Regions from separate parts of the Homo sapiens genome. Here all the other regions are linked to region 3. The links come from fine-mapping of genetic effects on gene expression. A gene starts in region 3. Each other region holds a variant in brackets. All regions are shown on one strand. Distances are from middle to middle.

Evidence for each region. PIP is the estimated chance that this variant, and not a neighbour inherited with it, causes the effect. A credible set is the group of variants that fine-mapping cannot tell apart.
Region 1: its variant is the best candidate, but not a certain one, in a credible set for the expression of LOXL2 in tibial artery (GTEx, PIP 0.71).
Region 2: its variant is the best candidate, but not a certain one, in a credible set for the expression of LOXL2 in esophagus muscle (GTEx, PIP 0.60).
Region 4: its variant is the best candidate, but not a certain one, in a credible set for the expression of LOXL2 in blood mononuclear cells (TOPMed, PIP 0.83).

Annotation. Positions count from the first base shown.
Region 1 is chr8:23,298,271-23,305,969 of GRCh38, forward strand. It overlaps LOXL2 (lysyl oxidase like 2), which reads right to left. Exons shown (of 14, transcript NM_002318.3): 11 at 5,012-5,127; 12 at 3,757-3,893; 13 at 566-677. Among named protein-coding and RNA genes, the nearest start is that of R3HCC1, 14 kb to the left of the region's middle. RefSeq lists enhancers at 3,311-3,811, 3,812-4,312. The variant G/A (reference allele first, on the strand shown) is at 4,650.
Region 2 is chr8:23,310,828-23,318,526 of GRCh38, forward strand. LOXL2 (lysyl oxidase like 2) reads right to left here. Exons shown (of 14, transcript NM_002318.3): 9 at 6,122-6,287. Among named protein-coding and RNA genes, the nearest start is that of LOXL2-AS1, 22 kb to the right of the region's middle. The variant T/G (reference allele first, on the strand shown) is at 3,523.
Region 3 is chr8:23,400,145-23,407,843 of GRCh38, forward strand. LOXL2 (lysyl oxidase like 2) reads right to left here and starts at 3,976. Exons shown (of 14, transcript NM_002318.3): 1 at 3,810-3,976.
Region 4 is chr8:23,422,214-23,429,912 of GRCh38, forward strand. ENTPD4 (ectonucleoside triphosphate diphosphohydrolase 4) reads right to left here. Exons shown (of 13, transcript NM_004901.5): 13 at 6,949-7,699. Among named protein-coding and RNA genes, the nearest start is that of LOXL2, 22 kb to the left of the region's middle. RefSeq lists an enhancer at 9-509. The variant G/T (reference allele first, on the strand shown) is at 3,923.

The sequences.
Region 1 (7,699 bases), 100 kb before region 3:
CTAGGGCTGGGCACATAGCAGGTGCTCTGTCAAAGTTGAGTGAACGAGTGAATAAATATAGCGCCTTTAATTTTAACCTTTTGCCAAGAGTGAGGCCCATGACTTTTCCTGCAGAGGAAAAAGCTCTGCCTTCCCTTTTGTTCCCCAAGTCCTATCATCCAAGGAAAAAAGTGTCTTTATTGGAGACTAGAAATAACAGTAGTTTGCTAGCTTCCAGCTCTCGACAGAAAAACCTGATAGGCAGAGCCCACAGATTGCTGATGCCCACATTTTTGAGGTCACATACATAATGAGCCAGTGGCCTCAGCTCCAACCCTTAAAAAGCCTTGGGGTCTGCACTGGGCTGGCCTGGTCCTGTACCATCCTCTATCCGTGGCCGGAGCTGGCTGTAAAAACTCAGTCTCCATCCAGGCCTGTGTGTCTGTGGCTTCTGTCCTGAATGTGGAAATGTGATGCTGGCTGCATTCCCCGAGCTCTTTACCCAAATTAGGAAGCTGCCTCTGGGTCCTTGAGAAAGTAGGGCAGCTCCCGCCTGCTTCCTGGAGTGGGGGCGGCCTGGCCTTACCTATGTGGCAGTTGTACATCCAGATGCGGTGGCCGTCATAGCGGCTCCTGCATTTCATGATGTTGTTGGAGTAATCGGATTCTGCAACCTCGAAGTTGGGGTTAATAACAACCTAGGGAGAAGCAGGGCAGAGGAGGCTGCTTGTTCCCTCTGCGGCCACCTCCACCCAGGCCTGGGGCTCTGAGAGACCAGCACCTCAGGGAAGGGGAGCGTGGCAGGTGCCGGGACCCAAGACGGGGGTCTGTGGGTCTCAACAAAGTCCTTGGGGAGGGGAAGAGATGAGTCAGGGAGCAGAGGAAGCATGGCCTGGAAGAGGGAAACCCTGCCCTCTGTCCATATCCGTGTAACACACACCCCTCTACCCAGGGTGGGCCTTCGGAAGGGGGTCACCCACTCCTGGGAGTTCTGGGGAAGGCAGAAGTTGGGGTCTGGGGAGGCCCCAAAAAGAAGATGCTGAAGAGAAGCAGAAGGGTGCAGGGAGGACCTGGCGGTGTGGGAACCTGGAAGAGGGCTGCCTGGGCGTTGGAGATGGGACACTCGTCACAGGCGTGTGACTGTGGACATGTCCCTTCCTCTCTCTGTAAAGTGACAGGTGGGACTTGGGGATCCATGTCCCTGTCTGCTCTGCTGGCCGAGGGCCTGGCTCTGGGGCTGCTGGAGAAGTTGCACCCTCTCCCCATCCTTCCACCCACCCCTGTATCCGCATCCCCCCAGCTACAGCAGGAATAGGAAGGACATATTCTGGGAGAGTGTCTGTGAGGGAACAGAAAAGGGGAGGTTTACGGTGAGGACCCGAGGAGAAAAGAGAAAGGGAGGGAGAGGGAGAAGAGACAACAGTGGTGAACAGAGGGGCAGAGGACACAGATGACAGGCCTTCCCTCGAGGGTCCTGCCACATTTGGAAGGGCTGCGACCCACAGCAGGGGGGCGGGTACAGGCTGCTCGTTCAGGAACATTCTCTAAATTTGGGGCCCCAGAAGGGCCTGGACACGAACCTTTAGCAGGCCGCTGGGCTTGCCCAAAGAGGTGCTGTGGGAAGCCAAGGCCAGCCTGGCAGCCGGCCCTCTGCTCTGGCCCAGCGGGGCTGTTCTGGGGGCCTGCACCTGGCTCAGCTGTGTCCCGCTGGGGCCCTGTGCCTTTAGCTAAGGAGGTACATGCCCTGCTCCGGGGCGGCTTGAGTTTTTTCTTTTCCACCCAACCATTCTAGCTGCCCCCTCGTTCCTGGCCCACACATGGCATGGGGCAAACACAGCTCCACATGCCAAGGCCTCCAGCTGTGCAGGCCTAGGCAGCTCCTTGGCCGCCCAGGCGTCTCGACAGTGCAGCCGTGAGGGCGGCTGGATGCAGCAAGGGCTCGTGTTGGGGACACGAGGGCCAGTGTTACGTGTGGGGTGGAGGCGGGGCTGGAAATGTGTGTCCCCCACTGTTTCACCCCACTCATCTACTGCAGACCGACATCTCACGAGGGCCTGCGGGAAGTGGCTTTAGGTTTCTGTATGTCTGTGAATCTAGGAAATGATGAGAAAGCGGATAAAGCGGGGCCACCAGGAGCCAGGAGGCCCCTTCACCCCTGCCTCTGAGCTCTGCACAGGTCCCTCTGCGTGGACGGTCACTTCCTCCTCGCCCAGCTCCCTCCTCCTGTCCTTCACAGCACCACTGATGTCTGAAGTGAAGACCACCTCTTGTGTCCCGTGAGTCCCCAGGCCGGTGCTTGTGGCACCTAAAGAAGCTCCATGTCTATCTTAAGGGGAATGTTCTTTTTGATTAATCAGAGGTATTAACATGCCCCTAATGAGTCCATTTGCTAATTGTATTGTTTAGGGGTTGAGAAAACAAAATAAAGAGTTGATATGTCTGGGGTTGGGTGGCCGTGAAATGAGGGTAATGATGATGCCCCTTCCTTGGGAGATTAAATCAAACAATGCATTCCCCAGGCTTAGGCAATTGATAGTAGTTATTAAGTGGATGGCACTGGCCAGAATACAGGGAGATACACACTCACCCAGCAAAATGATAGCAAACCTCAAACAGAAACCACCAGGCACTGTATACGTGCACATGGCCACGGCTATTCATCTTTTAAAATAAATAACTCTCTGGTTAGGCCTCTCCAAGTCTGTGGTTCTGGGCTTGTGGGTGGAAAAGTGCTTGGCTGTCTGCTTTCCAGCCTCTGAAACTGCCCAGGAATTCTCTGAAAGCCCCTCTGTGGTGACTTCTCTGAAGGTGTTGTTTCTTCAGAGGACTGTCTGTAGGTGGGGACCGTGGGCCAGGCCCTGGGCTGGCTGAATGCCCCCTCAGGAAAGCTTTCAAGGTGGAATGACACATTTCTGGTCATCCACTTTGCTAGCCAACAGGGCAAGCTGGAAAACGAGATGGGTGAGGACGTAGGAGAGAGTGAGAGGGTGAGATAAAGCTTCTGCAGGCTACGTGTACCCGTGCACTGGGAGAGACACTAGGGACACAATGCCCCTTTTCTCCCCCAGTTAGAGCCCTGGCCAGAACATGCCGCTGTTTTCAGGAAGGAGGGAAGCCAAGGCCCCCTTGTTCCTCCTCAGGGCTGGCCTTCCACCCAGAGTATGTGGAAACAAATCTCGGCAACCCCTCTGACAAAGAAGTCACCTGGCCAGGCTGTGTCTCGTGTTCAGTATTTTATTCTTATAGATTCACTTTGCATTGAGAATGGCCCCTTCTGCAGATCCTCCTCTATGAGGCAGATATTTCCGGAAGAGCTAAGTCACAGATATTTGCAAGTGACTGGCTCTTTATGAGTTTGCTTTCAGTCTTGAAAGCACAGACCAAGGCAGCCTAGGGCACTAGGAGAAATGGGGATGGTGGAGACAAGAGCTCCATAGGAGACAAGAGGTGTGGGTTGCCTGAGCATGTATGGAATAAACTGGCCGGAGGAGCAAATCTAGCCTGCTGATGAGTTTTGATTTGCATGCACCAGGTGTTAACTCAATCAAATGTGAATGCCTGTGGTGTCTCTGGTCCTGTGCACGCCCTATTTCTCAGGCCCCCATGCCTGATATCTTTGGGTTAACTGATGGACCGTGATGGCCTCTGGGGGTAGCACCTTGCCCTTTAGACAGCCTGACTTCCATGCCCCTGTGTGGACACCAATGGGAAGGAGCCTGTGGAGGTGGCCTCCCCTCCTCCCCCTGCAGGGCTGGAACCCCTTCCCACCCACCTCACCTGGAACAGGTAGTCTCCAGGGGGCACGTCAGTGATGTCAACCCACTGGCAGTCGATGTCATGGCGGTACATGTCCCAGCAGCCCATGGTGATGCCCTGATCGCCGAAGTTGGCACACTCGTAATTCTTCTGGATGTCTGCGGGCAGGGTAGAGGAGAGCTCATCACCAGGGAACCATGGCCCCACTGCCGCACCCTCTTCCTGCTTCCAAGGCCCCTACCGCTGCTTCATCTGGGCTCGGCATCCCACCCCACTGTGTGGGCTGCTCATCTGTTCTCATTTCAGTAGAACCCCCCACTCAATTCCCTACCCACATCCTGCCTCTTCTCTCAGGCCAGGCTCAAGTTCCCCTTCCTCCATGAAGCCCTCCCTGACCACTCTGATCCACCCTGGCCTTTCTGTGACATCCTCAGCCTGGGGATAACTGCGTGTGTGTGGACCGAGGAAATCTCTGGTGCCTGTGGTTTAGCAAAACGTGGGGGGTCATACTGTCTGTCTCCTCTGGAGGATCGGCAATTAGAGTGTAGGCCCATGTCTCTCTGACACTTACATGTTATCTGCACATGGTAAGAGGTCAACACCTGTCTGCTGTGTGATTTCACGGCAAGTCAGTGGCGGGCCGCTTCAATGAATAACAAATTAAACACGCATTTACTGAGAAGCTGCCATGCCTGGACACTGCTGTAAACAGTGGGTCTAGCAAGAAGAACTGACATGTCTCCCCATGAAGAGCCCCCAGGGCTGCAGGTGCACTAACAGGTGATCACAGGGCAGGTGTGGTGACCTACCAGAAGTGTGAGCAGAGTGCCACACCTGCCGGGACGGGGGGGCGCTTCAGAGGAGGGCATTTGAGATATAATTGAAGGGTGACACCTGGTGTGGTAGGGACACTT[G/A]GCATTGGGACACCAGAAAAAAGGTTGGTGGCAGCCAGAGTGGGAGGGGCATACGCATCAGGGTCTAGGCTGCTAAGCCCAGATGGAGCAGGGTCCCCAGAGTCTGGATCTTGTCCAGGAGGCCCTGTGGACCGACCAGTGCCTGTCAGCACAGCTCTGGGGAATCCGGGTGCCCTTGGAACCAGGTCATGCCCATGCCCCCAGCGCCTCACTATAGCTGAGGAAGGTCCAGGTGGGGAAAGGTGGCAGTGGTCAGAGTGACACAGGGTCAGTGCCAGGCCTGGGCTCCAGCCAGGTGATCGTGGAGGCAGAGGCATTCGAGTCCCTCTGAGGCCTCCCATCCCCCCACTCCGCTCAGATACCTCCTTCACATTCTGTGTCCTCCAAGCAGAAGCTGGCCTTGTGGCCCTCTGCCACCTTGGTGCCATTGAGGTTCAGCAGGTCATAGTGGGTGAACACCTCCATGCTGTGGTAGTGCCTGGAGCGAGAGAGAGATGGCCTGGAGGTCAGTTTCTGGAGCAACTGCTGCTTGCAAGCAGAGGCCTGGCTGGCGATTTGCCTCTGGGAATACTTCCAGGGGACCAGAGGGGGCCGGGTGGGGAGAGGAGTGGATGAGAGGCCTGAGGAAAGGAAAGCCGGTGCTGCAGAGGCAGCTTCAGGGCTCTGGAGTCAGACCACTGCTCACCTTGCTAAGCCTCCGTCCTCTCCTCTGCTGAATGGGAATGATCATCGTAATGCATGGGGTGCTGTGGGTACCAGGGAGGTGAGCAGATTAGCCAGCACTGCATATGATAAGCACAGAACTCCAGCTATTGTTTTTAATAAGCGTGCAACTGGCTCTCACAGCCCCTTCCTGTTTGATGCACTTTCTTCAGGGTAATTAAAAAACTCCGCATTTTGACGTCTTTTGAAATGGAATATGGTAGGGAGAAAAACCAAAGGGTAAGAAGCATGATTAAGGGGGAGCAGCAGAAAGAACAGGAATAGTAAGGAATAGAACATGTGCCCTGCACAGGACACACACAGGTACCCCAAGGTCGTGCCTGTGCTTCAGACCTGGTCAGGAAGGGCCTGCAGCTTCGCCTCTGGCCCTGGGAGGTGAGCAGCAAGTCTGTGCTCCTCGCATTGTGCAAATAAAGCAGGGAGGAGCAGAAAGACAGCTGGGAGGCCCTCTGGGAGGGAGACACTGACTCATCCTCAGGGGCACACAGCAGCGGCAAAGGGAGGCACGTCCCCGGGGGTTCCAGAAAAGAGTTCTGCAGGAGAGCTTGTGCAAGCAGGCTGCAAATCCCTTGCCGCTGGTTTACATAACGAGGCTCCCTCTCTTCCCTCGGGAGGAATTGAGAACAGATGCAGAGTCTTGGAACACATGCGCTTGGTTTAGAATAGCCCTTGTTTCAGAATAAACAAGGGAAACGGGGCTGTCGCCTGTTGCTGCAGGGCCTTCCCGAAGCCTGCACTGCCCAGGCCCGGGGCTGAAGGAAGGAGGTTGTCTTAGCCCGATCCCAACCTGCAACGAGCATGTCACAAGTGTCTGCAACTATTCTATATGCTTGTCTCTGCCATTACAGGGACATTTGGAAAATGAGGGAAACTGAGGAACAAGGTGCCAAGTCATGGGAGCAGAGTCCCCTGTTTTGTTGCTGCAGGATCTGAGCTTCCTCTTCGGCAAAGAGGGGAGGGTGGCTTTGCCCGCTCTCGGGGCCGCAAGATTGAATAAGATGAACGGCGTCAAATAACTAATGCGAAGTGGTAGCACATTAGTCAGCACTTGACATACCTGTCCCCTTCCTCGTGACACTCCCATCATAGCAGTCACGGTGGCAGGATTTTTATTACATCCACTAACACTGCTGCTACAACGGCAGGCAGGAGCTCCTCACTTCCCCAGCCCCCTGCCCTTGGCCTCAGGTTCCCTCTGCTGTGTACGGGCAGTGGGGGCACGGGGAACGGGGAAGACAGCAATGAACAGGATAGGTTTCCTGCGAGGAAATTCGAGGCTCTTTTCCCTTCCTCCTGCATTTGCCTGTGCTAAAAATAATATCAGAAGTTGCTAAGTTGGGCTTCCCTCGGTCACTCATGTTTCTGGGTAAAATGACGCTAAGCCCGGGTTCCACTGAGAACATTCACAAGGAGGCATTTTGTGGCCGTGGAAGTGACGACTTTGAGAAAGTCTATTTTGGCTTCTTGAAGGAGCAAGAAGAGACATGAGGTCTGACTCACTGCCTAAAAAATGTCTGCATCGCTCAGAGAGGGGCTTATGTGACCATGTTTACCAGCTGGAAAGACTGAAGAGAAATAGGTTGATGCTCCGTTGTCTAAACAGAATTCAGACGGAGCGCACAGACAGACTCTTGTAAGGATGACCCCGTCCCACTGCTGGGCTTCCTGCAGACTTGATTTAAATCTTCCTCAGCTTCAGTTTTTCCCCTGCAAACACTCAGGGGAGCAGCTGGTTTCATGGCCTCCCAGTTTTCCCTGGCTTCTGTCCTGGGCATCTCGCTTTGCCTCTTAGGCGTATGCGGTCATCCCTCCCTAGGGCCACATCTCCTTCCCAGCTGCCTGGATTAGAGCCTAGAGCCCCCCCACACCCCCCGCCCACCAGCACTACCCACCCATTCCCCCCAGGAAATAGAGAGCAGGACTCTGGGAAGATGGGATGGTGAGTCCTGGCGAGGAAGGTATTCCTCCTCTTGCAGGCTGAGCTGTCGTGACCCTTGGGCATCTAGGAGGGGGCTGGATCCCTGGGGTAGAGTTAGGGAAGCATGGACTTGGAAGGAAAATCCAGAACGCTAAGGGGAGAGAGAGCCTGACACTTGGCGGAGGTCACTGTGATCTGGACAAAAGAAGACACAGCCTTCTACCGTGAGACTCCAGAGCTCAATGCTTTTTTGTTTTTGTTTTTTTTTTGAGATGGAGTCTTACTCCATCACCCAGGCTGGAGTGCAGTGGTATGATCTCGGCTCACTGCAACCTCTGTCTCCCGGGTTCAAGCAATTCTCCTGCCTCAGCCTCCCGAGTAGCTGGGACTACAGAGCACGCCACCATGC
Region 2 (7,699 bases), 89 kb before region 3:
TAGCAGGTGTTAAAAGAATGACTGATGGCTACAATCTACGTTTACTAAACAATTGTATTAGAAAGCTTAGCTTCTTTGCAAAAGGATTAACTGTAGGCTTTACCTTTAAAAGTGAGCTTTCAGTGAACACTTCTAGTACACAGAAAAATGCCATATATGAATCAGTGATCACAAGATCCTGCCATCTTTTATTTTGACAAGTTGCTTGTAAATTTTTTTCCCCCTAGACTGCTTTGCAGAATTGCTTATAAATTTTAAGCAAGCAGAGTCTGTGAGTTTTGCTTCCCTCAAGTTCACCAGCACGTGGAGTGAGCTCTGTCTCCCTTCTCCCCCTCCCCCTCCAGGCTTACAGGCTGCAGCAGAGTCCAGCGGGTTCTCAGTAAACCCTGTGAGTTCACTGGCACCTGATGGAGCTGGCATCCTCTAGAGAGCAGATCCACTCGCAAGAATTGGGTGTGGAACCAAAGGGTAGGGAAAAGGTGCACACAGATGGCACATGGGGTGGGGCACGGAAGCCGTAAATCAGGAGGCTCCCGTTTACTGACAAGTATTTCTTCTTGGAGGCTACGCCAGGATGCAGCATTGCCCTACACCGAGTGTTCTGGGCACGCTTATTTTTATGAGGGTGTCATGTGAGCCTCTTATTAGTTGACAGCCCCTCTGAATACCTCTGAGCTGAGCATGGAGGTCTCCACTTGGGCTCTCCCGCCAGCTCGCAAGGCGAGGGATCGTTAATGTACCATGGTTTGTGCTTAGCTGGTAGCCTGAGATGTGCAATCTCAACAGCTGCCATGGGTTGGGGACTTGGCCTCCCCTGCATCCAGCAGGCAGCAGAACTCCTAGGTGGCATCCTCCCACCTACCCATGGCTCGAGTATTACGATGCTCTGTGCTAGGTTCTCTGGACAGAGCTGAGCAAGGCAGAGGTGGAACTACCCTAGACTAACAAGAGACAGACATATTCAGCACATAATAATTACTACTGCAACAAGAGCTGGCAGGAGATATGATGGGAATTGTAACGGGAGGAACCTGTCGGGTAGGTGGTCAGGAGGCTGCTTTGGGAGAAGTTGTGTTTTAGTTTTTCTCTGAAGGAGGAGTGGGGATTCGAGGAAGTAACACTAAGGATGAGGCTAGGGCAAAACAAATAGCCTGTGCCGAAATACAAACTACCATCAGAGAATACTACAAACACCTCTACACAAATAAACTAGAAATCTAGAAGAAATGGATAAATTCCTCGACACATACACCGTCCCAAGACTAAACCAAGAAGAAGCTGAATCTCTGAATAGACCAATAACAGGATCTGAAATTGTGGCAATAATCAATAGCTTACCAACCAAAAAGAGTCCAGGACCAGATGGATTCACAGCCGAATTCTACCAGAGGTATAAGGAGGAACTGGTACCATTCCTTCTGAAACTATTCCAATCAATAGAAAAAGAGGGAATCCTCCCTAACTCATTTTATGAGGCCAGCATCATCCTGATACCAAAGCTGGGCAGAGACACAACCAAAAAAGAGAATTTTAGACCAATATCCTTGAGGAACATTGATGCAAAAATCCTCAATAAAATACTGGCAAACCGAATCCAGCAGCACATCAAAAAGCTTATCCACCATGATCAAGTGGGCTTCATCCCTGGGATGCAAGGCTGGTTCAATATACGCAAATCAATAAACGTAATCCAGCATATAAACAGAACCAAAGATGAAAACCACATGATTATCTCAATAGATGCAGAAAAGGCCTTTGACAAAATTCAACAACCCTTCATGCTAAAAACTCTCAATAAATTAGGTATTGATGGGACGTATTTCAAAATAATAAGAGCTATCTATGACAAACCCACAGCCAATATCATACTGAATGGGCAAAAACTGGAAGCATTCCCTTTGAAAACTGGCACATGACAGGGATGCCCTCTCTCACCACTCCTATTCAACATAGTGTTGGAAGTTCTGGCCAGGGCAATTAGGCAGGAGAAGGAAATAAAGGGTATTCAATTAGGAAAAGAGGAAGTCAAATTGTCCCTGTTTGCAGACTACATGATTGTATATCTAGAAAACCCCATTGTCTCAGCCCAAAATCTCCTTAAGCTGATAAGCAACTTCAGCAAAGTCTCAGGATACAAAATCAATGTACAAAAATCACAAGCATTCTTATACACCAACAAGAGACGAACAGAGAGCCAAATCATGAGTGAACTCCCATTCACAATTGCTTCAAAGAGAATAAAATACCTAGGAATCCAACTTACAAGGGATGTGAAGGACCTCTTCAAGGAGAACTACAAACCACTGCTCAACAAAATAAAAGAGGACACAAATGGAAGAACATTCCATGCTCATGGATAGGAAGAATCAGTATCGTGAAAATGGCCATACTGCCCAAGGTAATTTACAGATTCAATGCCATCCCCATCAAGCTACCAATGACTTTCTTCACAGAATTGGAAAAAACTACTTTAAAGTTCATGTGGAGCCAAAAAAGAGCCCGCATCACCAAGTCAATCGTAAGCCAAAAGAACAAAGCTGGAGGCATCACACTACCTGACTTCAAACTACACTACAAGGCTACAGTAACCAAAACAGCATGGTACTGGTACCAAAACAGAGATATAGATCAATGGAACAGAACAGAGCCCTCAGAAATAACGCTGCATATCTACAACTATCTGATCTTTGACAAACCTGAGAAAAACAAGCAATGGGGAAAGGATTCCCTATTTAATAAATGGTGCTGAGAAAACTGGCTAGCCATATGTAGAAAGCTGAAACTGGATCCCTTCCTCACACCTTCTACAAAAATCAATTCAAGATGGATTAAAGACTTAAACATTAGACCTAAAACCATAAAAACCCTAGAAGAAAACCTAGGCATTACCATTCAGGACATAGGCATGGGCAAGGACTTCATGTCTAAAACACCAAAAGCAATGGCAACAAAAGCCTAAATTGACAAATGGGATCTAATTAAACTAAAGAGCTCTGCACAGCAAAAGAAACTACCATCAGAGTGAACAGGCAACCTACAAAATGGGAGAAAATTTTGGCAACCTACTCATCTGACAAAGGGCTAATATCCAGAATCTACAATGAACTCAAACAAATTTACAAGAAAAAAACAACCCCATCAAAAAGTGGGCGAAGGATATGAACAGACACTTCTCAAAAGAAGACATTTATGCAGCCAAAAAACACATGAAAAAATGCTCACCATCACTGGCCATCAGAGAAATGCAAATCAAAACCACAATGAGATACCATCTCACACCAGTTAGAATGGCAATCATTCAAAAGTCAGGGAACAACAGGTGCTGGAGAGGATGTAGAGAGATAGGAACACTTTTACACTGTTGGTGGGACTGTAAACTAGTTCAACCATTGTGGAAGTCAGTGTGGCGATTCCTCAGGGATCTAGAACTAGAAATACCATTTGACCCAGCCATCCCATTACTGGGTATATACCCAAAGGACTATAAATCATGCTGCTATAAAGACACATGCACACGTATGT[T/G]TATTGCGGTACTATTCACGATAGCAAAGACTTGGAACCAACCCAAATGTCCAACAATGATAGACTGGATTAAGAAAATGTGGCACATATACACCATGGAATACTATGCAGCCATAAAAAATGATAAGTTCATGTCCTTTGTAGGGACATGGATGAAATTGGAAATCATCATTCTCAGTAAACTATCGCAAGAACAAAAAACCAAACACCGCATATTCTCACTCATAGGTGGGAACTGAACAATGAGAACACACGGACACAGGAAGGGGAACATCACACTCTGGGGACTGTTGTGGGGTGCGGGGAGAGGGGAGGGATAGCACTGGGAGATATACCTAATGCTAGATGACGAGTTAGTGGGTGCAGCGCACCAGCATGGCACATGTATACATATGTAAATAACCTGCACATTGTGCACATGTACCTTAAAACTTAAAGTATAATAATAATAAATACATAAATACATAAATAAAACGAAAAAAGAAAAAAATAAAAATAAAAATAAAAAAGGAGAAAAACAACAACAAAAAACAAGTAGCCTGTGCCAGGCCCCTGCGGCACCACGGAGGGTCAAAGCCAGTGTGGTGCAGTCACTGAGGATGGGAGGGGGTGGCCAGCGAGGAGGCTGGACAACACAAGCCCCGTGCGAGCCCCTGGTCACGGAAGTGCAGTGGGACCCTTGGGTGGGATTTAAGTGGGACGTGGCCTTGGCTCTGGCTTTGGGGAGGGGAGAGGAGGGGAAGCCACCGCAGGGCCACGTATCACTGTAGGGATCTCCTTTGCAGTGATGCTGTGTGGTCATCTGGACACAGGCAGCAACAGTGGCAGGGAAAGACATACAGAAGGTTGAGAAAATACTGAAAGGTAAAAATCAAGAGGGACTGGACATGGGGGTGGTGGGGAAGAGGGAGAATCAAGGAGGTTGTGTAGATTTCTAGCATATGCAGTTGGTGGGGTGAGAATAAGATATTATGAAGGGTTGCCTGAAGAATTACTTTATTTCCCTGAATACTCTAACGTGCATTTAGCCAGAGCAGCCAAGAGCTGTGTTCCTGGCCCCAAAGCCTACTGCCCCGCTGCAGACACACTCCCAGTGATGCTTCAGCCTAAGCTGTGGAGCATTCTGAGAAATCGCCCCATGAAACTCATTTTTGGATCTCCCATGAGGATCTGACGGCATGGCTCATCTCATAAATCTCAGTCCTCAGAGAGAAATTCCCTTTAATCTCTAGAGTGGTGGGCTTCTCTTGACTCACAGCCATATTTCTATCTCACAGGTACTGTTAGTTATATTAATGACCAGTATTCTCTTTGCTCTGGCTGCTAGGAAGCTCACTGTGAAATGAATGACCTACTCATAATAAATGCATAGAACCCCCTAGTACACATTTGTAAAATTAACCCCTCCCTGGCTCCATTTTAAGCCACTACCATTTTGCCAGCACCTGTCTATCTTTCATCTGTTTTTATTTTATGCTATCTTGAATTGTATTTAGGTTTGTATTATCTTCATTTCCTTCTGGAAAAGATGGGATATTGCAAATATAAATAAATTGATAAATAAAGAAAAGGCCCCCGACAGGGAAGTGGCTGTTCCTCTTTGCTGGGATGCTTTCCCCCGGGGAGCTGGTAAGATGGTGATCTCGCCATCTCTCCTCTCACAAGGATGTGATAGCTTGTGATGTCTGCCCAGCGAAGCCTGCCCTGAGGTCCTGCTTTGCAAGGGCTAGGAGATGCTAGTGAGTCTAAAAGGGGTTGGTGGGAGACGCAGCTGCTGTTCAATCCCGCGTTCTCCGTGATGGCAGGATGACAGTGCATCTTTGTTTATGAAGCCCTTGCACATATTAATTGTCACACTTGATTTCTAATTTCTAAGGAAAACTACAACTAAAGACCACAGAGGCTGACACGCTTTTCCAAGATCAGCCAATAAGGCAGGGTCTGGTCTCAAGTTCTCTGGCCAGCACCTGGGCCTCCCAATGGAGATGGCTGCGTGTGGGTTTATATTACAAGGCCAGGAAAGGGAGGGCTGGGTTTGGGCTCAGGAGGGCAGCATTCCAAAAGGTTGTCTACTGCTCCTCTTCTCTCAGCATGGGAGGGAGGCTTCAGGAAGTGGGTCATCCTGAATCCTGGCTGGCATTCCCTTCTGTGGGCTCAATCTCTCTAGGACTCCCAGCGAACTACCGGGCAGCTAAGTGACCTCCAGGGTCTGAAAACAGGAAATGCTCTACAGAGGAGGTGGAGGGAGGAAGCCAACACCCATGGAAGATGTCATCGACCTCATTTAACTGGCATGACGGAGGCACTCTCAGTCATGTAGTCTGCCCTGGGTCACTGCAGTAGCAGTGGTCCTGTGACTGAATCCGGGCTACAGACTGCAGCCCCTCCCTCCCGCTTTTCTCCCCACTACATCATAGACAGCGATCTGTGGTTGGGGTGGCGGTCATCTCTCTTGCCCCCAGTTTTTCTCCCTTAGGATTTCATTCTACCTTCCTCTATTGCTTGGCTCATGGCAAGGCTTCAGAGTCTCTTGAGGAATAACTGGTGGGACTCTGGTCCCCTTGGGAGCCCGGTGGGGAGGGAGGGGAGGAGCTCTCACTTTCTGAGCAGGCAACTCCGGCCCCGTACTGCACTCCGCCCTGGGGGCAGGCCACGTCCTCCCCGTCGTGGCGGCAGTGCGCCAGGGACAGCTCCGTTCCCGAGCACTTCACTCCACTCATGACCACTTTGTTGCTGTTGACATCTCCGTGCCAATACCAGGTCTCCTGGAAGAACCAACAAAACAAATGGTGGGTACATCATCTCAAACTGTCACTTTCTCATATCCTATCAACTTGCAGCCTCACAAAAATCCCAATGTTTCATGATCCCATTTTTCAGATCGAAACAGCACGGAGGGTCACCTATCCAAGCTGTGCAGTTAGTTGGTGGCAGAGTGAGTGGGAATCCAGGTCTCCTGAGTGTAGCACTTGGACTCTGTCACTCTCTCCCTCAGGGAAGTAGAGCTAAGGTTGTGGTCAGACACTGCAAGGCTGTGTGTCAGGAATGGCAGGTGCACACAACTCAGGTTGCCCACTCCCCAGTCCTGATCCAGGGCAGACATTGCTAATCAATCACAGCACTCTCTCCTCTAAGCCCGAATAGGATCTCAGAATCCTTCTCAACACAGTGCTCCAGGAAGATGTTACTGGTTGATTGGAAGTGGTGGGAGAGAAGAAGAAATCTATTTGCATAGGTCAATCATTAGACATGTTATAAAGACGAACTTCTGAATTTAGACTTTTCCCCAGTTTAAAGAGCAATTAATAGAGTAGTTCTGCACAGAAGCTGAGGAGATCCGAGGCTTAGGATGCTGGGATTTATTTGGCCCCTTTGCTCTATGGGCCTTCGAAATACTGTTAGGATTTACTCTCACACTTCAGAGAAGTTTCCAGCAGAGAAAAATGAGGAGCAGAATTGGGATCGTCAGGTACAGAAACGGGATGAGAACACAGGTGCTGTGTTCCTCAGGTCTCTCGGGCTTGGAGGCTGAGGCAGGATTAGAGCTCAGGGAGGTCTTCTCGGGATCGTCAGAGACAGACCATCAGGATAGGAAGGGCCTTGGAAGTATTAGTATCTCATCTAAACTCTCCTGTGATGGTTCATTTTACGTGTCAACTTGGCTAAGCCACAGTACCCAGATATTTGGTCAAACACTATTCTAGATGCTTACGTGAGGCTGTTTTTAGATGAGATTAACATTTTAATCAGTAGACTTTGAGTAAGGCAGATTACCCTCCATAATATGGGCAATTCTTATCCAATCGGTTGAGGATCTTAAGGGGTAAAAAAAAAAAAAACCCAAAAAACCTGAGGCCTCCCAAGGAAGAAGCCATTCTGACCACAGACTGACTTCAGACTCTAGCTGCAACATCAATGCTTCCAGCCGGCTGGTCTACTCTGCAGACTTCAGACCTGCCAGCCCCATAATTGGATGAGCCAATTCCTTAAAAGAAATATCTTTCTTCATGCTGTGTGTGTGAGAGATATACATACACATATATAAACACACATTCATACATCCTATTGGTTGATAGCACACACACACACACACACACACACACACACACACAAAAATACACATTCATACAACCTACTGGTTTTGTTTCTCTAGAGAACTTGACCAATACCCACCTCC
Region 3 (7,699 bases):
CAAAAGCAAATAAACTTAAGTAATGAAAATGCTAAAAGCAGAAGGCTCTGGTGTTGTATTAGTCTGTTCTCATGCTGCTAATAAAGACATACCCGAGACTGGGTACTTTGTAAAGGGAGGAGGTTTAATGGACTCACAATGCCACATGGCTGGGGAGGCCTCACAATCATGGCAGAAGACAAAGGAAGAGCAAAGGAACATCTTACATGGTGGCAGGCAAGAGAGCATGTACAGGGGACTCCCATTTATAAAACCATATCTCACGAGATTTACTTCTCAGGGGAAAGATCTACCCCCATGATTCAATTACCTTTCATCGGGTCTTTCCTACAACACATGGGAATTATGACAGCTACAATTCACAATGAGATTTGGGTGGGGACACAGCCAAGCCATATCAGGTGTTGCATATCTTCATTGGTCAAATGCAGAATAAAGTCATGCATAAACTAAGGGCTTCAATGGGAAGCCTATATACCCCTACTTCTCTGTCATAGGATTTGAGGGCTTCAGCATGAAGGTACCAGCTGTCAGAGTACTCAGGTGATGCTCAGAGAGGGGAGATTGTCCTCTACTAGATTTCTTTCTGGGGCCTTTGTTTCTTCCAGGAATCCCAGCAACAGTCATTTCACTCATCCTATTTTTACACCTTGGAGTCAAATAATGAGGAAGTACACTGCTCTCTAGTTCAGAGAGGGCAGCTCTGAGCCCTTACAGTTTTGCAATGAGCTAGGAAACAAACCCTGGCTTCCTGATTTTGCAGTTCATTTATCTCAAGCACCAAATGTCCAATTACTAATATTTACACAGGGATTTCTGACAGCAGGTGTATAGGAAGTGATAAGCCCAGGATGAAGCCTGAGCCAAGAAGAACTCTTCAGAGAGCAGCTGAGAGTCCACGAGTAACATGGAGAACCAGAACCACCGAAGCCCAGCCATGAGGAGGCTGGGTTAGACCCTGGCTCCCTGGGTCACCAGCTGTGCCCTCTGGACAGCTTATCTGTTTATCCATTTCCTCAGCTGAGAAATGAATTTGAAAATACTCACCTAACTCTTTAGTGGGACCTTGTAAGAATCAAATGACATAGTGGACAGAAAAGTAGTTTGAAAGGAAGAACATAACAATAGGAATGTAACAAGTTACACAAATCAACAGAACTCAGATCAACTATAAAAAAAGACATTTTGAGGAAAATTGGGAAATGCTTAAATATAGACTGCTATTTGGCATTAGATGATACCAAATATTTTTTTTTTAGTTTTCTTAGGTCTAAATATGGCATCATAGTTATGTAAAATCTTTAGAAATCACACTGAAATATGTAGCAATGAAATGACATGATGTATAGGATTTGCTTTAAACTACTTCAATGACAGAAACAAAGGGACAGATGACGTACATGTGGCAAAATAACTGTTGAAATTCAGTGAGAAGCTTATGAGGCATCATTATACCCTTCTCTCTACTTTTTTTGCATACTTGAAATTTTTTGAGAATAAAAAATAAACAATGTAGTGTTTTCTGGGACTCAACACCTTCGCTGATGGTCATGTCTATCTAGAGCACAGAAAATCTGTTTCCTTCACAAAGCCCTTCCACACTGGCCATCTAGAGGTCAAAGGACAAGGACTTGGGAAGAGGCCAGGAGAGGCCAGTTGGAAAGAAAATAAAAGGAAGCATCTTTGCAGAATCTCCTATCTGTGATACTTAAAATGTCAGCCAATGTGTGGTGTTAAGTACGTTTTGTTTTCAGACCTGAGTTTCATACTCAACTTTGCCACTCAATGCCTAAGTGACCTTAGACTAAGTCACTTTCTAACACAAAGTTACAGGGAAGCAAATGCACATGCATGCACAAACACACATATACATATACACACGTGCACACATGCGTGCACACACATACACACAAGTGCACAAACGCGCACACACACATACACATGCAAACATGCACACAAACACAAATACACATATACACATACAGGTGTGCACACATGCACACAGGAATACATATGCACACACATTGCGTGCACACACACGTGCCCGCGCACACACACCTGTGTGCGCATATAAACACACACCGGTGCACACACATACACAAACACACTCGTGTGGAGACACACACATGCACACATACATGTGCCCACACATACACGTGCACACATGCATACACAAACGTGCGCGCGTGCACACACAGATTAGTGAGACTCAATTTCCTTGGGGAGAGCCTTGGTAGCCACTGGGGCCCATGGGGAGCACGCATCTTGTCATGGCTCTGGTGGCCATTCCAGGGCAGATACTAGGGACCAGGAAGAGGAACGGGACAAAGGTGAGGAGAAAGATTAAAAATTTAGTCAAGTTAGGATCCAGTGAGTCAGTCACTTATCTGGGAACTGACCAGGGAAATGAACTCTTCCTCTTCCACCCTAAACCCCAACCCTGACCATTAAGTACATGATACACCATCAATAACTAATTCATTCCACCAAAGATGACAAATGTTGTTTTGGGGTTCCAGGACGGACAGGCTAGCAGTGGTGTAGGGGAGGGGCCTGGAGTAAGAGGTATGGGTTTCAGTCCCCACATTGACTAACTCAGTGACCGTGAGCCTCAGCGTTTTTCTTCCTCTGGGAGAAAAAAAAAAAAAGTATTGTTTTTGAGATCTCTGCAGTTTCAAGATCTTAGGGACGAAACTAATTTGGAGCATGTTTCTGTCATGCACATCTCTCCCCTCATCAGGACTTGGGGTTTCCTAACCATATTGAGTAGTTCAGCCCCCTCCCTCGCCGTGTTCTGCGGTGTTCTCTTCCTCACACCCTCGCCCCGCTCCGCCCCGCACTCCGGCTGTTTTTTGATGGTCTTAGCTCGGGCACGGAGAGGAGGGAACCTCGCTTGTTCTCCCAATCATCTCTATTCCAGCGCTGATTCCTGGGACACCTCGAGCAGGCAGCCACACCCAGAGGGCTTCCAAATTTGGGCTGGTGAGAAGGGGCGCGGTGGGCAAAGCGCCTGCGTAAAAGTTGTAGGCACTTCAGACCACCGGACCAACGGCTCAAGATTGGGATCAGCTGTAGCCGTGGGTTCGCTCGTGCCCGTTCTTTCCAACTCCAGGGCTTCTAGGTGATGAAGGCGGGAGAGGGTCCCTGGTCCCCGGAGAGGCAGGGCGACTTGGGAGTGCATACCTGGCGTGCCGAGAGCGCCTCTGCTCCCGCAGGACTCACGGCGCTCCCGCGCTCCCAACAGCCTTTCGAGCAGGCTGGGGGTTGAACCGGGTTCAAGCAGTGGACGCTACAGCTCCCGGGCGCAGCCCCCGGGGTCCCCGCCCCCACTCCGTCCCAGCCCAGCACGCTCTACATCCCCAAAACCACAGCCCCGAGGGCAGTCACTGTCTCCCGACCCGTCCCCCGCGTGCCCCACTCCTCAAAGCCAGAATTCCGGAGACGCTGTCCCTGGAGCCACGCTGCACTCTCCAAGACGCCCAGCACACACCGAGACTTGACGGGCTCTGTCCCGCCTGATTACGGGCGCTCGGGACGATCCAGGGACCCAGCGCCTCGCTCCCCGGGCGCGCCAGCAGCCGCGCCGCGCCCGGCCCGTACGAGGTGGGGTTGGGCGGGGCCGCCCGGGGCGGCAGGAGGACCCGTTAGCCTGCACGTCCTCGCATCGCTCCCCGCAAGAAGTCTTTGGGAACCCCCAGGCACTGTCGAGAGGCAGCCCCGCGCAGGACGAAGCCTGGAGACCCCATAGGGACGCTCCCGCTTTCTCGCGAACCGCTTCGGGGAGGGGGTGGCGCGGGAAGCGCTCTTACTTGGTTTCAGGGATCCGCAGTGGCCGGGCTGGGACCGCGCTCTCCACGGTGGTCCCCCTCCGCTTCCGCCGCCGCTGAGCCCCTTTCTCGAGCAGAGGGGGCGGCTCTGGTCTCCGATGGCTGGAGAAAGCAAGCACCAAGCGTAGGTAGCCGCGCGCTGGAGTCGCGCGTTTACTCTTTTCCCCCTTACTTTTAACTAGAGGAGGATGGCAAACCCCTCCCCGGACCCACCCCCTTCCCCGAAGGCGGCCGCCGCAGCAGGCCCGGCCTCCGGCCTCTTTTGTTGTAATTCGAGAGCGGCCACTCCCAGGGCCAGAGGGAGCTCCGCGGGGGAGGCCAAGGCCTGCGGGGCAGCCCTTCCCAGGCTCCTCGCGCCCGGGTTTCCGGAGCCTGAGATGCCGGGAAGGGGGCCTTTCCTCGGGAGATTCCTCTACCCTTTCCTCCCTGCAGCCGTCCCAGAATTTAACCCTTCGATGTCCTTATCCACCAGCCTTAGGGCCCGTGCCTTGTCCACCTCCTATCCCGAAAACCCTGGCCCTCCTTGGCACATAATACACGCTCAATTAAAGCTGCCGAATGAAAGTGTTCAGAAACTTGCACCCATCTCGCCTGGGTTTCACCTCCCTTTTCCTGTAGGGGGAAAACCGATCCTGAACCAGTAAATAAACAGCCCCCTTTCGGCCAGCAGATCACGTCTATGGCCTTGGCCAAGCCTCTTCTCCGAGGACTAGTTTTCTTCTTTGTAAATTCAACGCTTTGGATTCCGTGACCTCTGGGGTCCTTCCTGGAATGGTAGGGCTGGGATTAACAAGCCCTGTGCTTGGGGACTGAACAGGACACAGCTAATGCGTGGCCATTGTGCAGAAGGACCTCCTGTGCCTGGCTCTGAGGCTCCGGGTGGGGGATGGGCATGCTGGGAGAGCCCTCTGCACAGAGAGGGCTCCTTAAGCAAGAGCAGGGCTTTGCCAGTCCCAAGGAGGCAGCGAGCTGCAAAACAAGGGACCCCTGTGCAGAAGTAGACTGTCACCTGAAAGGCGGCTCCTTCCTCAGTCCTCTCTTACTCCACTCCCTGAGGAGACAAACCCCTCCCAAATCTCACCTCCAGCCCAGGCTTCTCTCCTAAGCCATGGATATTTAAATCCATTGGCCCCGAAAGACTTTCACCTGGACATTCCCATGGCCGTAGCTAACCTGGCAAGCCCCAAACTTGGCACTGCAACTCACGGTCCACCTTGACTCCTGTGAGCTCTCCCAGGCAGATATGGGGTCTTCTCCGTTGCCTCCTCCTTACCCTCCCCACTGATCAGTCCCTGACTCTGGTGGGCAGTAGAGGGCAAGGGTCAGAGGAAGGGGGTGTAGTTATCAAAGGCAGGAGGAGGGATCTTTGTGGTGGTGGAACTATTCAGTGTCTTGAGATACAGAAAACCACACAGGTGATAAAATTGTATAGAACGTAATACACCCAATAAAATTTCAATTAAAAATTTAAAAAAATCCTCCGTGGCTCCAAGGTCCTCAAAATGTAATCTGAATCCTGGCTGGGTGCGGTGGCTCATGCCTGTAATCCCAGCACTTTGGGAGGCCGAGGCAGGCGGATCACAAGGTCAGGAGATCGAGACCATCCTGGCTAACATGGTGAAACCCCGTCTCTACTAAAAATACAAAAAATTAGCCGGGCGTGGTGGCGGGCGCCTGTAGTCCCAGCTACTCGGGAAGCTGAGGCAGGAGAATGGGGTGAACCCGGGAGGCGGAGCTTGCAGTGAGCCGAGATCCCGCCACTGCACTCCAGCCTCGGGGACAGAGCGAGACTCCGTCTCAGAAAAAGAAAAATGTAATCTGAATCCCTTGATTAAGCTGACAGGGCCTCTGGGGCATTTCCAGCCTGCCCAACTGCCAACCACATCTCACCTCTCCCCCTGGGCCTTACTTTCTGTGCTCCTATAAGCCTTCTATTTCACACCCCAGGACCTTTGAACGTGACATTCCCTTGGCTTCTCTGCACAGTAATGCCTGGTTATTGAGCTTTCACTCAGCTGTCACACCCTACACAGTGCCTGGACGTACCAGATGCTCAATAAATGCTGGTGAAACTGAGCTCTCCCCTTTCCCCATCTCCCATCCTTCCACTTCTAGTCCTACCCTCTCTTGCTAAAGCATTCACTAATAAGGTAGAAAATGAAAGGAGACCAACTTTGTAAATAATCTTTTGTCTGTTATAAAGAAAAGCAAACTTCTTGTGAAATATTCAGAAAATATGTAAAATGTAAGGAAGAAATTGTCACTCTGGTGTCTTATCACCCATAAACACCTACTGTTTGGAGTCTTTCCTTCAGAATATTTGTTCAACCAAATTGTAGTTACAGTTTTTGTATCCTGATTTTTTTTTTTTTTTTTTTTTGAGACAGACTCTAGCTCTGACTCCCAAGCTGGAGTTCAGTGGCGCAGTCTCGGCTCACTGCAACCTCCCCCTCCCAGGTTCAGCTTCCCAAGTCTGTCTCAGCCTCCCGAGTAGCTGGGATTACAGGCATGTGCCATCACGTGTGGCTAATTTTTGTATTTTTAGTAGAGACAGGGTTTCACCATGCTGGCCGGGCTGTCCTTGAACTCCTGGTTTCAAGTGATCCACCCACCTCTGCCTCCCAAAGTGCTGGGATTACAGACGTGAGCCACTTCACCTGGCCTCTGATTTTTTTTACTATATCATTTTGTGTTAATTTTTCAATGTAATTTTTAATGGTTTTAGACAGTTCTGGTCTGAAATTATTGTGCAATGGAGTCATTTCTCCATTATTGGATATTCAGTTGTTTACAGCTTTTTGCTAGTGTAAATTACGCCATGACAATTACCCCTGTGAAAGTAATATTTATTGATTGGGTACAGTGTGGTTCCTGCTAATTGTTACAGATGAGAAAGCCCTGGCTCAGAGAAGTGATTTTCCCAGCGTCACAGAGGCAGGGAATGGCCGAGCTGGGAGAACCAAAAGGAGCTTGACTCGTCCAGCAAGTATTAGTGGCCCACACTGGAGGCCTCAGTAAGTCCATCTCTGCCTTACCATGTCCTCACTTCCAAGAGGAAATGAGTAGAGTATCTGAAGTTTGCACTGAGTGTTTTATTGATGCCCTTTTGTTGAATTGAAATCAAGACCTAGGAGACTACTTCAGGACAACAGTAGACCCTTGTCCCAGATGAAACAAAATGATGGCGGGATGCCTTATGTCTGTAAGTCTGGATACACCTCCCACCCTGCCACCTCCACCACTCAGGTCCTGCACTGCTGCAGAGGCAGAGTCGTACAGTAGGTTCAGGGCATGCTTGTGCAGTCAGGGGGCCTGGGTTCAAATCTTGGCTCCACCATTAACTGATGTGAACTCCCTTTTCCTTCACATGCTTCATCTGTAAGAAGCGCCTCAAAATGCTCCTAAGAGGTTGAGTGGAGTGGCTTAAGCTTGTAATCTCAGCACTGTGGGAGGCCAAGGTGGGTGGGTTGCTTGAGTCCAGGAGTTTGAGACCAGCCTGGGCAACATGGCAAAACCCTGTCTCTACAAAAAATATAAAAATTAGCCAGGCGTGGTGGTATGGGCTTGTAGTCCTAGCTACTTGGGGCGCTGAGGCAGGAGGATCACTTGAGCCCAGGAAGTCAAGGCTGCATTTGAACTGAGATCATGCCACTGCACTCCAGCCCGGGTGACAAAGCGGTATCTGTTAAAAAAAAAAAAAAAGCTCCAAAGGAGTAAAAGGACTGAATGGGCTCAGACTCAGAACAGTCCCTCGTATGGTACTTGGACAATAAATGTTGCGTTGTGAGGAGGGCATCTTTGAGGAGGGCACAGTGACTCCTTGTCCCTCAGGGCTTCAGACCCCACACAGGGAGAGGGAAGGCAACACCTCC
Region 4 (7,699 bases), 22 kb after region 3:
GAGAAAACTGACGACTGCTCCTGCCGACAGAAGGTTTGCTGGAGGCAATCACTCCCTGGCGCTGAGGTTATCTACTGCAACATTTAGCCTGTTGTTCGAGGAATGCAGTCTTGCAAGCCTGCTCTAGACTGAGCAGCTGACCCCTTCTTCCACCCCGCTTCTCACTATCTCTTTTGCCTAATAAATAAGGAGGGCTGTATAAAGCTCAGGGCCCTTGTCCACTAGGGGCAAGGTACCCCCTGACCCCTTCTTCAAAATATACTCTTTTGTCTCTTGTCTTTTATTCCCGTGTTTGCCCCGCTTTGTTCAGTCCCCCTAGGTCCGTGCAGGTTACAGTGGAATCCGTATTCACGTGCATATTCTGGCTCATTTCATACTACAGAAGCAGTGAGGTGAGTTTTGGACAGAAGTCATGTGGCCTGCAAAGTTAAAATGTTTATTATCTGGCCCTTTAGAGAAAAAAATTGCTGCCTGGTCTGAAGCGGCATTTTTCAAATGTGAGCATGCATTATGAGTGACCTGGAAGGCTGGCAAAATGAAGAATTTGATTCAAGAGGTCTGAGACCAAGCCTGAGATCCAGCACTTCCGTCAGGCTTCAGTGATGTTGATGCTGCTGATTCAAGGACCACACTTTGAGAAGCAAGTACCGAGAGCAGCTCCGTCTGACGGAAATATACTGTGAGCCACACAGGCAATTTAGAGTTGTCTAGTGTACACATTAAAAAGGTAGAAGGAAACAGGTGATGTTAATCCAATAATATTTTATTTAACTCAATATACCTAAAATATTGTCATGTCTCATGTACCCAATGTAAAGAAACTGAGATATTTCATATTTTTTTTACATGAAGTCTTTGAAATCTGGTGTGTCTATATCTATATATAGACAGACAGATATAGATATATATTTTTTTGAGACAGAGTCTCACTCTGTTGCCAGGCTGCAGTGCAGTGGGGAGATCTCAGCTTACTGCAACCTCTGCCTCCCGGGTTCAAGCGATTCTCCTGCCTCAGCCTCCCGAGTAGCTGGGACTACAGGCGCCCACCACCATGCCTGGCTAATTTTTGTATTTTTAGTACAGACGGGGTTTCACCATATTTGCCAGGATGGTCTCAATCTCCTGACCTCGTGATCCGCCCGCCTTGGCCTCCCAAAGTGCTGGGATTACAGGCATGAGCCACTGTGCCCGGCCTGAAATCTGGTGTATATTTTATACTTACAGCTCATCTCAGTTTAGATTGGCCTGTTTCATGTGGCTAGTGGCCGTCATACTGGACAGTGCAGCTCTAGAGTACAGAATGGAGCCAGGCTGCCTGCGTTCAAATCCCAGCCCCACCACTGGCTAGTTCGGTACCTTGGGCAAGTTGTGTGCCTTTTCCACATCTGTTTCTCCACCTGTAAAGTGACGGTAATCAAAGCACCTCCTCATGGTGTCATTTTGGGGACTGACATGGTTAGGCTTTGTGTCCCCACCCAAATCTCATCTTGAATTATAATCCCCACAATCCCCACATGTCAAGGGGGAGACCAGGTGGGGGTAATTGAATCATGAGAGTGGTTTCCCCTGTGCTGTTCTCGTGATAGTGTTCTCAGGAGATCTGATGGTTTTATAAGTGTTTGGTAGTTCCTTCTGCATTAATTCTCTCTCCTGCCACCTGCCAAGGTGTCTTGGTTCCCCCTCTTCACCTTCCGCCGTGATTGTAAGTTTCCTGACGCCTCCCCAGCCATGCTGATCTGTGAGTCAATTAAACCTCTTTCCTTTATCAATTACCCCGTCTTGGGAAGTTCTTTATAGCAGTGTGAAAACGAACTAATACAGGGATTATGTAAGCTAACAAAGAGCTAGAACAGTGCCTGGCGTGTAATAAGCTATCTTTCTGTTATGATGACGGTTCTGCACAAGAAGCACCTTCTTTCCCTCTAATAAAGCAAGGAGGTGGTGCCATCTTTCCTGCCCCCATCCCTGGGGCCAGACTGTGGAGTTTAGCATGCTCTCTCAGTTCTCAGCCTGGTCATTCCCCCTCGCTTTAAGGATCCTGCCTTGTTCATTCATTCCACAGATATTTATTGAATGTCTACCGCCTATCAGATCCTGTGCCTGGGGATACAACATGAAAACACACAGACAAAAGCCCCCTGCCCCCTGGCTCATGTTCTAGTAGGGTAATAGGGAGAGTCGTACATAGAACGTAATGAAAACAGAGTGTACTAGATCTAAGGTCATAAGCATCATGGGGGAAAGTGAAGCAGGGTGAGGGGGATGGAAAGTCCTGAGAGGGCCCTGAGGCCAGGGTGGCTGGAGCGGAGTCTCGGAGAAATGAGGACTGCGGTCAGAGAGGTGTGGAGTGGGAGGCCACGGTGCAGGGCTGTCTAGGCCATTATAAAGACTTCAGTTCTTCCTGAGTCAAATACAGAGCCGAGTGGAGAGCTTTTGCCTAACAACTTCAAGGTCTGAATCACAGCTTATCAGGCTGCCGTGCTGAAAACAGCCTGGGTTGGGTTGGGGTGGGGTAACCAATCAACCTCCCTGGCCCTGAATTGAGGGGCTCACTGGGATGTGAGGTCACCCTAAAACAAGGAAATCAGTTTTATCTTTTCTCCTCCTTTCATAAATAATCTGTGTCCCCATAACGTCCATTTTAATGTATTTGAATCAAAATATGCACATCCTCATAGGACATACAGTGCCGTATGCCCTACATTAACATAATGGCATTATACAACAATTCTCATGTCTTGCTTTCAGTATTCAACACTATTTTTAAGAGCCACCCGCTTGCTGTTCATAGTTCTAGGTCTGTCTCTCATGGCTATACAGTATTCCATGGTACGCACCTGCCGCCTTTGACTTGTCCAAGACCTTGCTTGCCTCCATCAACACAGTCACTCAGAATCATTACCAAGGAATCCTTCCGTAAGTCCATTCATGGACCCAGGTAGAAATCTCTCCGGAGAGCCACGCGCAAGTGGCTCTCTGAATCAAAGGGCACACACGCTGCTAACTTTTAAGCTGCCAGCTTCCCTTCTGGGGTACGCATTGCAGTTTGCACCACCACCAGCAATATTGAAGTCCAGGCCCCGCATCACTGCCAGCACTTGAAGTCTGGCAATTCTGAGGGGCATAAGGTAGTGGGTCTTAATTTACATTTGCATTTCTTCAGCTTAGTTTATCTCTTGTTCACCATTTGGGTTTCCCCTGCTGTGAATCACCTATTAATATCCATGGCCGGTTTTTTCTTTTGGATTTCCTTTTTCTTGTTGTTTTGCATGAAACTTTGTACATTTTAATCCCTTTTCAATTTCAGTCACTGCAAATACCTTCTTAGTCTGCCATCTGTTAGCTTTGATGAACAGAAAGTCTTACTTTAGATGTAGTCAAATCCATCCTTTCCCCCTTACATTTGGTGCTTCTTGTGAGGTTTAAAAAGTGACTTTTAAGGACAACTTAGAATGAAAAACAATCTGAAGCTATGTTTAGAATAAAATAAATATGCAGGAATTATTTTCTGTAAGCAGGGCTTCAGAAAATATCAATCTCACTTTGCCTCTATTATTACTACCTAATTCTGGGATTTCTTTTTCCTTTCTGTCAAGGCTGAACAGGTTGCGAAAAAAGGAAACCACTTGAGGTAAACTTGGTTTTCCTAAGTTTTTCTAAATAAAGCTTTAAAATGCAACACTCCCTTAACAAACTCTGGTGGAGGGAAGTGAACAGAGAACTGAGACTCAGAGGCCTGGGTTCCATCCCGCCCTTCACGGCACATTGCATATGGTTTTAAAACCACACACAACTCTGCACATCTGGAAAGAACAGCAAAAATTGAGAATAAAATATATATATATTTTAGACAGAGTCTTGCTCTGTCGCCTAGACTGGAGTGCAGTAGCACAATCTTGGCTCACTGCAAACTCCGCCTCCT[G/T]GGTTCAAGTGATTCTCCTGCCTCAGCCTCCTGAGTAGCTGGGACTACAGGCGCCCGCCACCTTGCCCAGCTAATTTTTGTATTTTTAGTAGAGACAGGGTTTCACTATGTTGGCCAGGCTGGTCTCAAACTCCTGACCTCGTGATCCGCCTGCCTTGGCCTCTCAAAGTGCTGGGATTACAGGCGTAAGCCACTGCACCCGGCCTAGAATAGATTTTAAAAGATTTCTTTCATAAATTTTAGAAACCTAAAGAGGTGATTTGTGAAAGAAACCAGATTTTCATTAGTTTACAAATATTTACAAAATACTATGTACTACTCGGTGTCTTCTTTACTGGATTATAAATGTAGAAACATGGAAAGTAAACACAGGACCTGTCATGGTCCATGTTCAAGGACATTTGGGCCAGAAATAGATACACTGATGGAAAACAGGGCCACGGGAGGTGGGAGAGAATTTAAACGTGTAATTTGAACATTAAACAGCCAGGAACTTCCAGAAAATTCTCTTGTGCTGCCATGACCAGTATCAAAGAACTTTACAAGGCTGAGGAGAGCCCACCAAATGTTTTAAGTGTTTTGAGTCTAAAATCTGGGTATTAAAGCTTGGGCCAAGTGGGAGAAAAAGCAATCTTAGGAAAAGAAAGTGCTAAGTCTGGTCCCTGGAGTTTAAGGCTTGTGTAATGACAGGCAAGAATAAGGTGATTAGGCCCGGTGCGGTGACTCACGCCTGTAATCCTAGCACTTTGGGAGGCCGAGGCAGGTGGATCACGAGGTCAGGAGATCGAGACCATCCTGGCTAACACGGTGAAACCCCGTCTCTATTAAAAATACAAAAAATTAGCTGGGTGTGGTGGCAGGCGCCTGTAGTCCCAGCTACTAGGGAGGCTGAGGCAGGAGAATGGCGTGAACCCGGGAGGCGGAGCTTGCAGTGAGCCGAGATCGCGCCACTGCACTCCAGCCTGGGCGACAGAGTGAGACTCCGTCTCAAAAAAAAAAAAAAAAAAAAAAAAAGATGATTAATATTTTCAGAACTGTCCACTTCAAACTCTGATTCTCATGAAGGCAAAAAGGGTGAAAGGTAGTATTCACACTCCCAATTAGAAGCCTGAGAGAACAGCAAGAACAGCTGGCACAAGGATGTTGTAGAAATAACACAAGAGAAGACCCACACTGGGGATTCTAAAGCTGCTCCTTTGTGTTTCGATGGCGTTGCCACCGACAAACCTTTCCCCTTCCAGTCACACAGGGGCCACTGGAATCCCAATCCCTTGACAAAACACCAGATGCCTGAGATGTTTATTTGATGACTGGTTGAACGGGAGGAAAAAAACTCCTTTTCTCTCGTCTTTGGAGTTCACCTACTTAAACAAGAAGTCTGTCTTTTGTGCCTGTCACCATCGTGTTCTGTGAGGAGGTTTCAGTCCTTTACTCAAGGCAGAAATCCTTCTTAAGCCTTGATTTTCTTGTTTGGGCCTCTTACATGAAACAGACACAGGCTGTTGACAGAAATGTTGAAGTGGCCATGAAGTCTGGAGCCCGGATGTCGTTCACCTGCCAAACAGTGTCAAGGGTGAAAGGCAAAGATCGAAGGCCAAAGTGCCCCTAGCGTCCCCTGCAGCAGGTCTCAGTCAACCTTAATAGATCTATTAATAGAAAGAGGCTGGACTGCGCAAGGGCAGGGGGACTAGCCTGGCTAAAAGCAAAATAAAACACATCAACAGACACACTCTTCTTTTGTTAGGAGGAGGTGGGATCACAGGCCCACATGCTCCCAGACGAGGTGGGGCCAGGAAGACTCTCACAGGATTGCCTTTCATGCTGCCACGGATGGATGCTCCAGGCAGATCCACTCTGCCAAGGCGTGCTTTGGGATTAGCCGGGCACTCCTTTGTCTTTTCATGACGTTTCCAAAAGAAGACACTGTGACTCTGACAGAGGTGACCTGCACCTCACGACCCCCTCTGTGCAAACCATTAGCATTTCCGGATCTCAAAAAAACCAAAAAAACCCACAGGGCACATGCCAATTCATAGGACAAATGGAAACAGACTGAAAACAAAAACACAGAACCATGGCTTTTCAGACCTGTCAACATGGTTAGTGTTGGAAATAGGCACTGACTTCTCTTCCACCAAGTGGAATAAAAATTTAGATGTCTTTTAACATCTTAGATATTTTAACGTATTTAAAGTCAGGCAAAAAGCCCTATAGTCATTGCACTGCCTCAAAAATTATTTACGACAGTTCTATCTTAATGCTGTGTCCTGTTTTCCTAGCGATCAATGGCTTGAGGACCTCCCTTGAGCTCACTTTGCTGGCTCTGTTCTCTCATTTTGTTTTTGCGCTTCCCTCTCCTCTCCGGCATGTCTCAGGCCTTTATTTTTGTTGGTCCTAACAGCTGGTCCCCTTCCCTTCCCATCTGTCTCTATCATCTATTTTCAGGTTATGGCTCAGGCCCACCTTCCTGCTCCAGGAGAACATCTATGTATTCTCCAACGGCTGAGAAACATGCTGAGCGTCTAATGTCATCCTCCATATTGGTAACACGTAACATTAATAATGACAGTCATAATTTTCTGGAAGTAAGCCAAAGGTTCTAAGCTTAGATCGAACTGCAAAACAGTGTAACATAAAGTCAGCATTTGCTGTTACTATTAAATACATAAAAATTGGTTAATTTTATTACTTTTCCTTGTCTATATACAAGTAGGTACTTAAAATGGTGACCTTATAAACAGTCATCTCAGAGTGGCAATTATTGTTGGTGAATGGCTTAACGTCGTGGGTTGGTCACTACTTGTGAAATATCTGCTTTCTGAGCTGCAGAGAGTGTGGACGCCCTCTCCACAACCCCACACAATTGTGCTTCACTGTATGCACACCCAACACAACACATGCAAAGAGTGTGCGTCAGACTCAGACAATGTATTTCACTGAATTTGGACTCAAGTTCAACTCATCATTCTAATGAGTAAGAAGATTCAAAGATGACAAGGAAGCAAGCCCACACAGTCTACGGGCCATGGGATGATGAACTTTCGTTTTATTGATTTTTCAGTACCCAAGTGTGGCACTGTAAGGCTGCCACATACAGCAAGTGACATGACACCAAAAGGACCTTCCGAGAGTATTATTCTTACTTTGGATGGAAGACATCGCTTAAACAAAAAACATTTAAAGATGCTCCCTTGCTTTTTATAATTCCTAACTGTAAAATATAATTTTAGTACAGAACAAACAAATTCTCCTTGGTTGGTCACATCATTCATTATTGAAAGGGAAACTTAGTATCAAAAGAAACAAAACACTGAAATAAATAACTAAGTAATTTACTGAAAGGTAGTTTTGTTGCATTGCACACAACTGACCGCAGAGAATTCTAAAGCTGATTTTTTTCTTAAAGGATGAAAAACTCATTTGCCATTTTTAGTTTCTTGCTAAGTGATACATGCTCCTTATAAGGAAAACTACTCTGTGTAGGCCTGAGTTTAAAATGTAAATATCTGTTTATCCAGAGTTTGTTAATCTAGAGTACACAGATGTGGAAAACTGGTGGTGAAAAGAGGGACCTACCCAGCCTTCAGGGTGGCTGGGCAGGGGCCCCATGTTACTGGCCTCAGCCACCAGCAGCGTCTTCACTCCGCCCAGGTCAGAAAGCACTGCCTAAAGCCGGAGCTTAGGATGAACATGGGCAAAAAGCACTGGTACAGTTCCATGTGTTTCTCTTCTACTGTAATGTCCCCAGAGGGATTGTGAAATGTCTGAGAACATCCC